2 separate regions of the Homo sapiens genome follow, and region 2 is linked to region 1. Evidence: fine-mapped expression QTL. A gene starts in region 1. The other region holds a variant in brackets. All regions are shown on one strand. Distances are between the middles of the regions.

Region 1 (8,340 bases):
CAAATGCTTACCCAACTTCTATTCAAAATATTTGCGCCAGTAGTTCTGATATGACCCAAGCAGAGTTCACACATTATTAATCTACTCCTTTCAGTCTTCTAGATGTGTTTCCTCCAAAATCTACCAGATTCTCAAATAATTTCAGGAACTTTCTCCAGAACAGAAACAAGGTTGTTACTGATACCAACTTTGTCTCCAAACATGGGGAAGATTATCATTGGAAAGATCTATTGATGACCTATAATACATAGTTGGAACTGTTTATCCACAGAAGTATTCCCCAAGAATCAACCACAGAGCCAAGATGGAGCTTATGTCATTGTTATGCATACTTCTTTTACGGCTTGTGAGGGCAGTTCATACTATTCTGATTTTACAACTGAGACCCAAGGAACCTGAGTGACTTCTAGGCTCCATTATGTCAAAAAAAACTCAAATGTGAGGCTTTGCCTACACTGAGAAACAGTAGTTCAAGAAACGGTGCCCTGGTTCTGTTAAAATAATCTGAGAGTTATGTGGTAAGTAGTTGAGAGTGAATAGGGTAGCTTTGAGAGGTGACAGCGTGCTGGCAGTCCTCACAGCCCTCGCTGGCTCCAGGCGCCTCCTCTGCCTGGGCTCCCACTTTGGCGGCACTTGAGGAGCCCTTCAGCCCACCACTGCACTGTGGGAGCCCCTTTCTGGGCTGGCCAAGGCCGGAGCCGGCTCCCTCAGCTTGCAGGGAGGTGTGGAGGGAGAGGCGCGAGCGGCAACCGGGGCTGCGCACGGCGTTTGCGGGCCAGCTGGAGTTCTGGGTGGGCGTGGGCTTGGCGGGCCCCGCACTCGGAGCAGCCGGCCAGCCCTTCCAGCCCCAGGCAATGAGAGGCTTAGCACCCGGGCCAGCAGCTGCGGAGGGTGTACTCCGTCCCCCAGCAGTGCCAGCTCACAGGCGCTGCGCTCAATTTCTCACCGGGCCTTAGCTGCCTTCGCGCGGGGGGTGCTCGGGACCTGCAGCCCGCCATGCCTGAGCTCCCACCCCCTCCATGGGCTCCCGTGCGCCCGAGCCTCCCCGATGAGCACCACCCCCTGCTCCACGGCGCCCAGTCCCATCGACCACCCAAGAGCTGAGGAGTGCGGGCGCACGGCGCGGGACTGGCAGGCAGCTCCACCTGCAGCTCTCGTGCGGGATTCACTGGGGGAAGCCAGCTGGGCTCCTGAGTCTGGTGGGGACGTGGAGAACCTTTATGTCTAGCTCAGGGATTGTAAATACACCAATCGGCACTCCGTATCTAGCTCAAGGTTTGTAAACACACCAATCAGCACCCTGTGTCTAGCTTAGTGTTTGTGAACGCACCAAGCCACACTCTGTATCTAGCTACTCTGGTGGGGCTTTGGAGAACCTTTGTGTCCACACTCTGTAGCCAGCTAATCTGGTGGGGACATGGAGAACCTTTGGGTGTAGCTCAGGGATTGTAAACGCACCAATCAGCGCCCTGTCAAAACAGAGGACTCGGCTCTACCAATCAGCAGGATGTGGGTGGGGCCAGATAAGAGCATAAAAGCAGGCTGCCTGAGCCAGCAGTGGCAACCCGCTTGGGTTCCCTTCCACACTGTGGAAGGTTTGTTCTTTCACTGTTTGCAATAAATCTTGCTGCTGCTCACTCTTGGGGTCCACACTGCTTTTATGAGCTGTAACACTCACTGCGAAGGTCTGCAGCTTCACTCCTGAAGCCAGCGAGACCACGAGCCCACCAGGAGGAACCAACAACTCCAGAAGCGCCGCCTTAAGAGCTGTAACACTCACCGTGAAGGTCTGCAGCTTCACTCCTGAGCCAGCGAGACCACGAACCCACCAGAAGGAAGAAACTCCGAACACATCCGAACATCAGAAGGAACAAACTCCAGATGCGCCACATTAAGAGCTGTAACACTCACCGCGAGGGTCCCTGGCTTCATTCTTGAAGTCAGTGAGACCAAGAACCCACCAATTTTGGACACAGTTTGACAATAAATTTACACTCAAATATCTCTAAGGAATCAAACTTACAGATTAATAATTAGTAATCAGGTCACGTAAAGTAAATTATAAAAGAGCATTGATACCAAGATTGGCAGAAAGTTTTTTGTGTGACAAAACCAAGTTTTGGCTAAGATACACACTGCTGATGGGAGTCTAAATTGCTGTATATGTCGGGAAAACAAGTTGTCTTTATCTTGATGTTATAAATAACCTATGACCCAGAAATTTAACTCCTAGACATATACTCTAGTGAAACTCTTGAACGTGTGCGTCCAAAGACATTTATAAACATGATCTTAGTAGTATTGCTTTTAGTAGCAAATTCTGGAAACATCCCAAATGTCTATCAATAGTGGAATTGATTTGAAAGGGGTGTGGAATGGTAATATAATGGAATAGCCTACAGCTGTTTAGATAAAGGAACTCCAATTAAACATACCAACAAAGATACATTTCAAAAACAAGACGTTGAAAGGAAAAAAGTCATCAAAACAATACACAACATTCTACCACATTTTTATAAATTCTCAAAATATGCAATATTAAACATGCATTATTTAGGGAGGCATTCAATGTAGCAATGCATTTTTAAGAGGCTGGGATGATAAATGTAAAATTCAGAACAGGTATTATCTCTGGGAACAGGAAGAGGAGGATGCAGTGTTGGGAAGAAATACATATAAGTACAGCAGTAGAGGCAGACTTTTTTTTCCTTTTCCTTTTTCCTTTATTTTTCCTAGCTTTCTTTTTCTTTAGCTATGGTATTTCTTTAGCTATGGTATGGTATGGTATGTACTTTCCATATATCATACAGTATATTTTGGTGTGCATGAAATAGTCCTTAATAACATTTTTATTATTTTTTATTTGACGTTTAAGTTCAGGGGTACATGTGCAGATTTGTTATATAGGTAAACTTGTGTCATGTGGTTTTGTTGCACAAATTATTTTCTCACCCAGGTATTAAGATTAGTACCCATTAGTTATTTCTCTTGATCCTCTCCCTCCTCCCACTCTCCACCTTCTACCCTCCAATAGGCCCCAGTGTGTGCTGTTCCCCTCTATGTGTCCATGTGTTCTCATCACTTAGCTCTCACTCATAAGTGAGAACATGCAGTATTGGGTTTTCTGTTTCTGCGTTAGCTTGCCAAGGATAATTGCCTCCAGCTCCATATTCCTGCAAAAGACATAATTTTGTTCCTTTATATGGTTGCATAGTATTCCATGGTGTATATGTACCGCATTATCTTTAGCCAGTCTATCATTGATGAGCACTTAGGTTGATTCCATGTCTTCGCTCTTAACATTTTTAAACAGTCTCTGAGTAGAATAGGGTAGGCTGGTGTAAGGAATTACTGTTTTTAATTGGAAGCAATTACATACTGCATTAAAAAGCATATATATATAGACACACATATATATGTTTTACATTCACATAATCAAACCAAAGCTTTCAGAATTTTCCGCCAAAAAGCATGTGTGGAGGGAGAGAGAGGGGTGTTATGGTGCATTTGTAGGCCCTGAAATAAAGTGATCTCCATATTTGCTTCCATTTGTGTATAAATATTTTTTAAGCATATATGCATCCTAGAGTATGGAAAGAAAATTTCTGGGAAGATTTGCAAGAATCTGTGGCAGTTGAGAGTAGGTTCACTTTCGCTTTATTGTGTAATTTATTGTATTTTTCATTTAATTGTACTTTGTAAACTAAATATTTATTGTATATTTTACTTCATTTTTTAATTGCCATATGCAGCTTTAATTTTATAACTAAATTACGTTCTGACCCAGGGCAGGAGGTGGGAGAAGAGAATGAGAGAAGGGCGGAATCCTCAAGACAGCAGCATTCTGCGCTCCGCCCTGGAACACCCAGCGCAGCTACCCCATCCCGCCCAGGCCGGCCACCTGGCGTCGAAGCCAGGCGCGAGGGGCGGAGGCGGAGGCGGGGGCGGGGGCGGAGGCGGAGGCGGAGGCGGAGGCGGAGGCGGAGGCGGAGGCGGAGGCGGAGGCGAGCACCGCCCCACCGCGCACGCTGCGGTTGCCCCGGCAGCCGCGCCCTGCGTGGCGGAAGCTCACAATCAGCCCGGTCCCTCCGGCTTCCACCCCGCCCCCTGCGCTCACCTGCCCGCGCGCTCGCCTTCCGGGGACCCGGGGCCCATGGACACATACACCCAGCCCTGCTGTCCCGCGCGCCAGCTCACCAGCCCTACCCAAGGGACATCATTCACGCCTGGGCGCCTCCGCCGGGCTCCGGGAGCCCAAGGTCGCGGCTGGGCCAGCGCTGAGCGTCAGAGGACGAGAGCAGGGGCCTCCCCGGTCGCCCCAGCAGGCCCAGGCACATAGGTGCCCAGAGATCCCTGGCTTCTGATCGCCCGGAAGACTAAGAGGTGAGCATGACACATGGCTTTTCCTTTGACGTTACATCTCTACCCCCTCCACTCCTCTCTTCTCCAGATTTTTCTGGAGACTAAAAAGTGGAAAGCACAGTAGAGAACCCCCAACATGTAAACTATCGCTTACACTTGTGGGTGAGCTGAAACCCGCAAAAGTTTGGTGTATTCATAAGGAGCCTATATTGAAGGACTTTGCTAAATGTTTTACAAGGATCATATCTCATTTCCTTTTCACACAGTCCCATGAAGTGGGCACCATTGCTATTGCCAGTTCACAGATGCAGAAACTGAGGTAAAAACTAGGTAGGTAGCATATCCATATTTATATCCAACTAGTTTGTGTAAATAATGATACAGGGAAGGGAGGATCACAACGGATTTCCCCACCTCAAACCCTACATTCCACTGTACCAAGCTTGTCTTCCTCCATTCCTCTTTCTAATGATCCTTCCTTGTCGCACAGCCCCCCTTTGAGAGTTAAATGACCTGAACACACACAGATTCCCACAGATTTTCATGTAATTTCCGAGTATTCAGACCCCGAACATGGACCTCAAGTCAAGACATTCTGCTCTATTCCACTACCTTGGTAGATGGTTAGATGTGACTAAGGTGGCCCAGGGTCATGCTGGGGAAAAGTACAGGTGTGCTTGTATGTGGAGGATCCTATATGCTGCTCAATTTACAAGGAACCCAGGACCCAAGGGCTACACTTGTGTGATTTCCTGCAGTGGGGTGAGCTCTTGGTCAGTCTTAGCAGTTGATTGTGAAGGACACTATACAGGGTGCTGCCCTCTCCCCAGCACTTCAGGGCTTTAGCTGGGAGGGAGGCAGTCCACAGGAAACCGACCCATGGACCTACTGAATTCATCACTGTAGCTGCTAATTAATTCTCCGTTAGAGATGGGTGCTAACAGAGGCAACATTGAAGTCCCTGATTGGGAAATCCTTATTTTCACAAATCAAGTGGCATTGATTCAGTCTAATCATTACCTATGTAGGAGCATCTTGCCCTATTCCATAGATGACACATATACATATGCAGTATGATGACACCGCACCTAATCGGAATATGGCCGATAATAATAAAACAAGCCATAAATAGCAGCTAAGGTGAGTGTCACCAAGCCGTGCAGCAAAGTCCAAGTGGATGACTCTGAGGCAGCCTCAGTTGGTTCCCTAGTCCACCGCATGTTATAAACAGATTAAAAGGCAAAGGAGGCCTGGCCCGGTGGCTCACGCCTGTAGTCCCAACACTTTGGGAGGCTGAGGCGGGTGGATCACCTGAGGTCAAGAGTTCAAGATCAGCCTGGCCAACATGGTGAAACCCTGTCTTTACTAAAAATACAAAAATTAGCCAGGTGTGGTGGTGGGCACCTGTAATCCCAGCTACTCGGGAGGCTGAGGCAGGAGAATCGCTTGAACCCAGGAGGTGGAGGTTGCAGTGAGCCGAGATTGTGCCACTACACTCCAGCCTGGGTGACAGAGTGAGAGTTGGGCTGAGGGTCGAGGGTCATGGGATAGGGCGAGACACCAGGGGAGTGTGTGAGGACAGAAAAGAGTCTTGAGGACCTAGCCCTGGGCACCCAACATAGGCTTCTTGAAATGGGGAGTCAGCAAAGGAGCCTGAGCAGGAGGGGGCATTGGTGTTGGATGGAAGCAGGCGATGGAGATGTTGTGGTGCCTAGAGAGACACATTTAAAGGAGAGAGAGCTCACTGCCGTAGAGAATGTAGGTGAGGGAGCAGGCTTGCGATGGAGAAAAATGGTGCATAGTTTCAACTTTTGTAGTAAGATGGAATCTTTTCATTGCAAATGTTGGAAACTTAGCTAACTAGCTTATACCAAAATAAGGTGACGGGGGAGAAGATGTATTTACCCACAAAGTGGTAGATGGCTTCTGGCACCATGGAATCCATGTTGCAACTAATGCCATCAATCTCAGTCTCTCTCCATCCTCCAAGCATGGACTCTCTCTGTGGCACCCAAGAGAGCTACCTGCGCCCCAGCCCCACACCATACTGCTTAACAACTTCAGCAGAATAGTCTTCCCTCATAGTTCTGGATGATGGGCTGCTGATTGGTTGATGTCTTTTATGCACATATGCTTGAGCTTCAGTGTACCTGGAAAGGGATGGTTCCCTCAAATGGGCCAAGCCTAGGCCACAGACGCTTTCCTCTGGCAGGGGACAGAAGGGACAGCCCCATCCAAACGACCCGGATAGGATTCCCTATGTGATAATGGAGTTCTTTTCTCATAAGAAATGAAGAAACAACTGGTCATACCTAGCATGGCCTGCTACTCAATCCAAAAGATTTTCCGTACAAGGAGGTAAAATTACATACTAGAATGCCCATCACAATTTAACAGGGAGATTGTTTATGAAGATTTGCAGTTTCCTTGCAGCCATTTAACTACATCTTTTCCACTTAAGATGACATAGGAATCACTCATCACATCTCTGATATGTTACAGAGCCCAGTAGATTTGTTTATAATGAACACCTCAAAATTATATGTTTTTATAACACCTTAAAACTATTAAAACCTGCATGATCTCTCTATTTTGCTGGTGTGAAACCATGTAGATAGATGGTGGGAACTCAAACCCTTACCATGGCAATTTAGTTAACCTCAGCTTCTTCATGGTAAAATGGTAAAGTGTGATGAGGAGGGAAGGTTAAATGGATAATAAGAAAACCACCTGGCAAACTATTTTTAATTATGATGGAAGATTTGTTTGAACTGTTTTAACTTTATGCCCACTCAATATTTTTGATATTTATGTATAAATCCTACTTTCTGAACATTTCTTAAAAAACAATCTCTGTTCTTAAGGAAGTTCCAAAATATTGTTATTTAATCAAAATGAAGATGATAAAATTAACTTTGAGTTATTTTTCTTTTTTGTTGCTTCAGCTTTAGTTTTGGTCCAGAAAGCATTTTCAAGGAGCTGGTCAAGCATGGCTTTAGCAGATAAGAGACTTGAGAACTTACAGATCTACAAAGTTCTTCAATGTGTGCGGAACAAAGACAAGAAGCAGATAGAGAAGCTGACCAAGCTTGGATACCCTGAACTAATCAATTATACAGAACCCATTAATGGACTTAGTGCTTTGCACTTAGCCTCAGTTTCCAATGATATTGATATGGTCAGCTTTCTCCTTGACCTTGGTGCTCACCCTGATGTGCAAGACCGAATGGGCTGTACTCCCACAATGAGGGCTGCAGAACTGGGCCATGAATTGTCAATGGAAATATTAGCAAAGGCAAAGGCTGATATGACTATAGTTGATAATGAAGGAAAAGGTAAAAATCCCGACATCCTCTCCAGCAGATTGCAATTCATTTTGTAGCCAGAAAGCAATAACATGGACTCTTTTTGTTTTCCAACTTTAGAAGTGAATTACTTATGGTTTTAAGGGAAAGGCTAAATTCTCACTCCTATACCTAAACCTACTGTCTCCTCATACTTTGAAAATGAGATAGCTATATCTTAGGGAAATCATTTATGAGAGCTTGCTCATATACTTAGATTAATTTGTGTTTGGTGGTTTCTTTTAAATGAGGAGAATTTTGAACATTATACACACTGATTATTCATTATAAATTATAAACTCTTCTTTAAAACAAAGATGAAGTAGAGCATTTCTTATTCTTTTTTACATTTTAGAATTTCAGGCAGTACTACACCTAGGACTCCAAAAGGATTTTGACCCCCTCAATAGCAGTCTGATGTAGGAAGGACTTGCACTTGGAAACTTGAAAGGACTAAAGTCAATTCTGGCATAAACTCCAACTTTCTAGGATCATTTAAAAATGTATTTGGAAATACAACTTCAAACTTTAGACATGACCTTTCAACAATGATTCAGATCAAACAACTGCACTTCCACACCGTTAATCCCATCATCTCAAGACCATGGTCTGAGGACTTCTTGCCCAAATAACT
Region 2 (8,340 bases), 29 kb before region 1:
GAATAGTGGCTCATGCCTGTAATTCCAGCACTTTGGGAGGCCAAGGCGGGCAGATCACAAGGTCGGGAGATCGAGACCAACCTGGCTAACACAGTGAAACCCTATCTCTACTAAAAATACAAAAAAAAAAAAAATTAGCCGGGTGTGGTGGTGGGCGCCTGTAGTCCCAGCTACTTGGGAAGCTGAGGCAGGAGAATCGCTTGAATCCAGGAGGCAGAGGTTGCCATGAGCCGAGATTGTGCCACTGCACTCCAGCCTGGGCGACAGAGTGAGACTCCGCCTCAAAATAAATAAATAAATAAATAAATAAATAAATAAATAAATAAATAAATAAATAAAAATGAAGAATAAAGGGCACAATCATGAGTAGAACACAAAGGCTGATGATCAAGGAGTCAAGCCAGAGTGATGATGGGTGGAGATTGGAAGAAACAGACCCAGAGACCTTGTGCTGGGCAACATCTGTTTCTACACTTGCCTGGCTACCTGACGTACTATCACTCATAGTTCTAAAGTATACCATGTTGGTATATTTATTAGTTTTTCAATATTTATTTAGATTTATTTTGGAAAAATATCCAATATATCCAGCTATTTAACAAAATTGAGGATTAAAACTATTTGATTTGGTGCTATTTTTGGACATGCATATTACACCAACAGAATAGCTGCTGATGCAAACCTGTTTGTTCCCTCTAGACAAGGAGATTAGAAACGGTAGGTAGATTCCTCCTTAAGAAAGAAGCAAATAACTTGAAATACAATTTGTTTTGTTTCTTGTATTTGAAAGTGCAGTTTACACAAGCCAAATAGACACCATATGGCCTTCAGTAATTTGACATTGAAGAGCAATGCATGATTTGTATTCTATTTCCAGCTACTGCACAGTGAATGTGCTGTGATACCATGTTTTTAAATTCCTCTCTGCCTTTGCCCTTGCTGTCTCTTAGAGGCAGGACATTTATTTATTCACTTATTCATTTCTTCTCTTTTTTATCCAGTGAAGTCTAAAAGAGATTGAAACTAAAAATAAATAAATAAAAAAGTTCAAACTAAAATTTCTCCTTTTTAGTGACCTCACTGAAGCTGTGTCATTATCTGGGGTAAATACCCAAGGTTTGTCTCTCCGCCAAGAAGATTAAGGACATGGACACACAGGGCAAGGGAGTTTAGGAGTGGAGGTTTACTAGCTAAAAGAAAGAGAAAGGAGAATAGCTCTCTCTCTCGTGAGAGAGGGGCTCCCGAAAGGGAAAAACCAGCCTGTGGCATACTGCACCAGATTTTATAGGCAGGCTTCAGGAGGCAGTGTCTGATTTACTAGGGCCCACAGATTGGTTGGACCAGATGTGATGTTTATATAGCGCACAGGGAAGGCTGGCCACCCCACCCTAATCTTATTATGCAAATGGGTTTTTCACTTGGCCAGGGCCAACTTGTCTGCTCCTTACTGTACACGTAGCTGGCAAAAGAAGGGAACATGGAGTCGCCATTTTGCACATGCCTAGTCCCAGATAGCCTTTTCCTCTTGGCACAACTGCTGGCATTCACCTGTGCAAGCTTCCAGCTTTCTTGTCTATGTCTGCAGCTCTATTTTACAGGCTGCTCTTTGTTAGAAAAGAAAATGATTTGGGGGCTGCTTTTCATTAAAAGGAAAACTTTACCAAGGACTCTCGTACCCTCACTATCTGCCTAAATAATTTTTTCTTAACTCCTATGTCATCACCACCTCTGTGAGTTAATATTGTTTTGTTCATACCCCTAAGTATAGCACTATTGTGTATTGTGATGGTATATATAGCCCTGACTCCCCCACTAAACCCCAAGCTTCACAAGGTCAGGGCCATGTTTCATTGTTTTAGAAATCTGTAACACCTAGCATGTCATAGATTATTTTTAAATGTTAAGAGAATTGCATTAAAAATTAAATACTTAAATATTTTTAGATCAAAGCATCAAGGTTAATATCTTTGTAAAGGGAATAATGTTCTATTATGAGTGGTAATAAGATTTTCCCATTAAGTTTGATTGAAGAACCCCAGTTTCACAATGCAGAGTACTAACCACTATACGATCACAGCTGAAGGAAGCCAGTTTCAAATACCACAGGTCATCCATCATTTTATCTAGCACATGGATATATATGACCACATTCGGGTTCCCAATAAGTAATGAGAGAAACAGAAGCATTTAATGTTGCCAAAAAAAAGAATCATAACATGGCCATGCTGATCTGTTTGTCTGTCATGATAACTAATGCAGCTTTTTTTGATAACCAATAGAAATAATGAATTCCCTACAAGTACATAGTACTTACAATAATATTTTAATAACCTACTTCAACATGAATTTTCAGTCCTCTTGGAAGGCTAACAAAATGATCCCCTCCTCCCCAAAATTGCATCATGTATTTGTTCATTTAACTTTTCAATCAATATTCATTTATCAGGTGCATGTCCATTTAGTAGACACTATGCTAGAGACACTTATACAGCATAGGCGAGTGTTTTAAAAAGTAAAAATACTTTATGCATTCATCTCTTCCTCACTGCACTGCCTTGACCCCACACAAGAAAGTGTGTAGCAGTTTCTCTTGGGTTTTGCTTACAGCTTCTCCAACAGATAAGAATATTTTATTTCATTTAATTTCATTTTAAATTTATTACTTCATGAAAGTGAGATAAAATTTGCCTAATTATCATAAGAAATATGGAAATGAATACGGGACATTTTCTAAGCACATGCATAGCACAGTGAACTCACTGCTTCCACTCTGTGTTTCTCAGTGGTGGAGGAATTAGTGAGTCCATCAGTGCCTGCCATGGGGAGGGTGAGGGGCAGGGTTCAGGCCTCACATTTATAGCAGGCCTCATCCTGTTCCAGATGTAATCGCCACATACTTTCACATGCAGCCACAGTGGGAAGTTGCAGGGTTGAAAGATAATACCACTTGAATCCTTGAAAATAAACACTAAAAATACATCCAAATGTTTAACCCAGTTTGGTCATTTTTTCATTCTGTTTTCTTCATTTTGGTTACTTCTTAATTTTGTTTAAGGCTCTCACTAAATTATTTGAATCATGATCCTGGCTCAGTATTCTTATTTTCTCATTTTTCTCAGTGCCTTATTTCCTAAAACCTTAAAAGTCAAAGATCCCTGGAGGGACAGGTGGGGGTGAGGGGAGAAAGACAATATATAGAGCTCTCAAATATGTCTTTCAAAAGAGTGCCATAAAAAGCTTTTAAGATGGTATTTATTTACTTACAATTTATGCCCCTCAAATCAAAGAAAACACAGTATGGTGTCTCTTCCCTCAATGTTATTGCCCCCCTCCCTTCCAAATGGCATTAATTTAAAATGAAAAAATAGGGTAGAATTCCGTGTTCTTCCTTCTTCCCAACTTGGCACCATAATACGCACGCTCCTCCTCCCCACCAAATTCATGCCTTTTATCAATCTCATTGGCATAATTACAAGGAGAAAATTTCATTTTAATTGTATTCATTTTATTTTAGAAAGGAGACTGAAACTCTGGAGGATTTATAAAAAATATTTACAAAGCTATGAAGTATGTGCTTAAGTAAACTAATTTCACCGGTTCTCTTTATACTTTTTAAAATTTGAAAGTAGGGAAAATTTAAAAATAAAAACATGCTATATTCTCACATTAAAAAAAAATCCTATGAAAGGGAGAACTCAAAAATTTGTTCTCTAATCCTTTGCCCTTGAGGTCACCGCTGTTCAGAGCTTGATATTTGTTCTTTCCAAGTTTTTCTTAGACTTATTGTGAAATATGTAAGTGCTTATCTTGTAAAAATAGTATTGAGCACAGGGCTTATCCTTCCTTGTCTGGTACCTGGGGAGATTTGGGCAGGTGGAGATACTGGTGTATGAGGAGGACCTGATAAGGAAGTGGTTGGGCTCTGAATTGGTTGGTTTGCATTTGAAAGTTTTGCTAGCAGGAGAGTTGTTGACTTA[C/A]TATTTCTAGGAATTAGTGAACCTTGTGAGGCAGGAGCAAGGCCCTGGATGTCAAGCCTTTCAGAATACAGAAAATCAAAAGACACAAGGCTAATATAACTTCATACTGCTTTTTTAATTTAAAGAAACCCAGAGAATTTGCTTAAGTGTTTCAAGCTAACAAACATTTTATTCGTGTGGCATAAATAATACATGAACAGACTTTTATGAGTAATATAACATCTGCAGCTCTTAGAAAATAAAACATAGTTAATTAGGGATGGCAGGAATTATGTAATCATTACTTTTATGTTTTGTTCTTTCTAGGTCATTCAAACTGTCATCTACACATGAATAACAATGAAATTCTCATAAAGAAGCAGAAATACCCAGGAGGCATGAAGAGTCATCATGCTTCAAAAGTACATGTATTAGGACTTCACGACCTCAGGAAAAGTAGACTCCGTAACTCTTAAAAGCTCAATCTTGGAGAGGAGAAACATGCTGTTTGATGACATAGCACAGAAACTTGTTGAAATATCCTTGGAGCTTGAGATGTCGAGAGCGAGCCATCAAAATGTTCTCAAGAATTAAATTGAAAAATGTTGCTTCAAAATGTCTTAGCCAACCAAATACAAACATTTTTGTCATTGTGACAAAAAAAAAGCTCACCAATTGTCTTTGCTAGTCTCAGCACAGCCCAAGAGGAGCATCCTTCATGAGCCAACTGAAAAACAGTGTGTAGTCTATGCTTCTGACCAGATGGGCTTCTCTTGTCACCATAACATTATGTATTAGGACTTCATGTATTATGTATTATGTCAACACTTTATTCATTATGCTGATCATACTCTGTATTTCACTTGCTCTGGTTATTTGTAAAGCTTTTCCTATTTCATCATTAAATTATCCTTGTATTTTAGCAACTGCATTTTAGTCACTCTATATTCTTTATAGTGCCTGCCCAAATGACATATTAATAAGCATTTTTTCTGAATCAATAACCAACCCCCAAAAAATCTGCAGCCATGGTTGTAAATACCGTACATTCCAAAGAAAAGTGGAAATGAATGAAGGACCAATTTTGAGGAAGAATTAGGGTTCTCAAAAATTCAACAATTACAATCAGTAAGTTTTTTAAAATTTAACAAATTCAACAAGTATGTCAACAAGTATTCAACAAGTTAGAGTTATAAACATTTGTTCAAAATTTTACACGTGGTTAATACCTTCAGAGCAGTTAGCAGCAAGATTCTCATTTTTAAATCTTTACCCCTTTGTTCATTTTAAGGCAAGATGGAGACCATGTTGATGTCAGAGCAATTGGTCCAGGGTTGTGTGAGGAGCCACTAGGAAGGGAGAAACAGGGAAATGTGGACCCAAACAGCATAGTGTTCCCCAGAAACTTGGGTTGGACACAAGAGTGTACATGCAGGAAAAAGTAAAATCAAGAAGATGTGTTAATCTAAACAATGCTGTGAGCAAATGAGACACAGGTCTCCAGGGGACACTCTGAGAAACTACACAGAATACACTTCAAAATTGTCCACCAGAAAGACAAATGAGAGAAGGGATGATCCATTGACTGTCTTCTACCATTGGTCATGTTGGCCGAAAGGCTGTTCACGACCGTGGACTTCAAAGATTGCACCTGCTTCAGAATGGCTGAGTAGTTTGCAGAAGGCATCTTAACAGATGGTAACAGAGAAGCAAGAGATAAGTGCTGCAGCTGATGCAAGGTGCTGGCAGTGACACTATCACAAAGCTGGTTGCTGTAAAAATGTGGCCAAGAGGATGTGAGCTACAACGCAAGAGTGGTTCGACATCATTTCTCAGAAGCACATGAGTCTGATGCAAATCTATTGTTCTTGAAATAATGAGCACAGGACCATATTTGTCCCTTCTGGACAATAGTCAGAGAAAGGAGCACCCACAGAGAGAAAAGATCTGGTAATACTAGTTAGGGAGTGGAAGAAGCCAGGTGATATAGTTTGGCTGTGTCCCCACACAAAATCTCATTGTGAATTGTAATCTGAATTGTAATTCCCATGTGTTAGAGCTGCGACCTGGTGGGAGGTAATTTAATCATGGGGGTCGTTACCCTCATGCTGTTCTTATGATAGTGAGTTCTCACGGGATCTGATGGTTTTATAACAGGCTTTTCCCCCTTTTGCGTGGCACTTCTCCTTGCTACTGCCATGTGAACAAGGGCGTGTTTGCTTCCCCTTCTGTCATGATTGTAAGTTTCCTGAGGCCTACCCAGCCATGTTGAACTGTGAGTCAACTAAACCTCTTTACTTTATAAATTACTCAGTCTCGGGTATGTCCTCATAGCAGAGTGAGAACAGACTAATATACCAGGGCACAGAAGAAGCCTAAGACTAAACTGCACCTCTCTGTGCTTTAAACACAGACCAGCACCTGGATGAGTGTTTTTCTTTTTCTTCTGTGCATATTTTTTGTATTTGGCTGCTTTTTAACTTGCCAGCTCTGACAGAACAATGCCATCTCTGAGACACTTTTTATCTACACATAAATTAAGTTACTTTATTGCTTTAGTTTCTCTGAGTTTTGTGCATTTTAGGGAGAGCTCTCAGTGTTTCCTGCTTACAGTCTTAGTTTAGGCTCCTCCAAAAGCCAACCCTGAGAAAATGATGTAGATACATGTATTTTATTTTATTTTTTAAGAGACAGGAGTCTTGCTATGTTGCCCAGGCTGGACTAGAACTCCTGGGTTCAAGTGATCTTCTCACCTCAACCTCCTGTGTAGTTGGGACTACAGATGCATGTCACCATGCCCCAGGTAGTTTGACAGGTGATCCCAGGAAGTGCAACAAGGGAGTGAGGAGTGAAGTAGAAAAGGGAAGACAGCCAATGAAAGGTGTGTGCACAAGGGAGCAGGGAGCAGGTAACCGCAATCTCAAGCTTTCTGAGAGTGTGGCCCAAAGGGTGATAGGGAATCTGGGCTGTTTATGCACCAGTTCCAGTTTCTCACTGGTTGAAAATTGCTGCTGGGAAATTAAACTCATTACACTTCTAGGCAGAGCAAACTCCTGTACTGCCAAGAAAGCCCCACAGGCAGAGAAGCAAGCAGAGAGGCGTGGATAGTTGAGGTAGAAAGACATGGGTGTGTCGCGCAGCTGCAGTGAATCCAGACATTTGGCTGACGGACATAGATTGGGGCATCAGTAGCTTCTACAATACATTCTGAGATTATTTTGCAAAGGACAAAAATCCTTGAGCATGGAGAAAAACAATAGCAACAGTCTTCTTCTAGCATCTAGAAGGAAAGATGGTAAGTTAATTAGTAAAGGGTTAGAGGCAGTTAAAATGAACTCTGAAACTGAGACTATTTGTTAAACTTTGCAGACCAAAACTTTAAACTGGAATTGGATCACTTTAATGAAAATCCCCTTTGCTATTGCTGCAGAACAAATGAGGAAAGAAAAGAAACCAACATGTTTATTGCTTTCACCTATAAACCAAGAACCTCACTGAACTATGTTAAGTAACAACTGTTTGGCTCTGTTTCTGTGAAGACTACATGGGGACTGATGGATATTTTTAAATTTTCTCTTACTAGTCATTGCTCTGGTTCATTACTAAGATGGAGCCACTCAAATAATGAGTGCTTTCTGATAGAAAAGCTGGATGACAAGATATGAAAATAGGTCTTAAACACAGTGGATTTCACCAGGGCTAGAAGCATGGGCAGAGCCGAAAGAGTCCAGAAAGGAAATACTCTCAGTGGTATCATAGATTTTAAAAATTCACCCCAATTCTTCATTTCCTCTTAATTAAGTTATAAATTCATACTACTGCCTAGTGGACTGAGTGAACTGCCCCACCCCTTGATTCTAGATTTGGCCATGTAACTTGCTTTGGAAAAGAAGTTGTTAGCAGACCTGGCATAACCTGTATGCTGGCTTATCTTCTTGGCAATTGTGATCATCCATGAGACGAACATGTCCCATGGGCTGCTATGTCTTCTCCTTCAGCCTAGGCCCTGGAAGGAAACGTGGAGCAAACTTGAACCCATCATAGCCAAGAGCTTCAGTCTTGGAACATAAATACGGAAATAGAGCTGCCCAATCAAGCATATTCTAAATGAGTCAATAGCAGTCAACTCAAGAATCCAAGCATGACAGCAGATGCTTACTTCTGTGACCACTAAATTTGTGGGTGAATCTATGAGGTAACATTATAGCGGCAGTAGTTGACTGATATAAGTGGTAGATTATTTTTTTTCTTGCCTGTAGTTAGGGTGATAATTATAACAGGGGAATAAAGACTTTTGTTAAGACCAAAGTTTTACTGAGGAAACCCAAAAACATGAAATTATTAGGAAAGAGCCAATGGGAAGGGCTCCCTGGAGGGAATCTGT

What was found.
Region 2: its variant is fine-mapped to the expression of ANKEF1 in thyroid (GTEx, PIP above 0.99).

What each region holds. Positions count from the first base shown.
Region 1 is chr20:10,030,951-10,039,290 of GRCh38, forward strand. It overlaps ANKEF1 (ankyrin repeat and EF-hand domain containing 1), which reads left to right and starts at 4,037. Exons shown (of 11, transcript NM_022096.6): 1 at 4,037-4,383; 2 at 4,629-4,692; 3 at 7,308-7,697. The coding sequence starts at 7,352. All of the region lies in intron 3 of SNAP25-AS1 (SNAP25 antisense RNA 1), which reads right to left. RefSeq lists a silencer at 3,828-4,377.
Region 2 is chr20:10,002,230-10,010,569 of GRCh38, forward strand. PARAL1 (PPARG activating RBM14 associated lncRNA 1) reads left to right here. Exons shown (of 2, transcript NR_109861.1): 2 at 4,284-4,887. Among named protein-coding and RNA genes, the nearest start is that of PARAL1, 20 kb to the left of the region's middle. The variant C/A (reference allele first, on the strand shown) is at 3,978.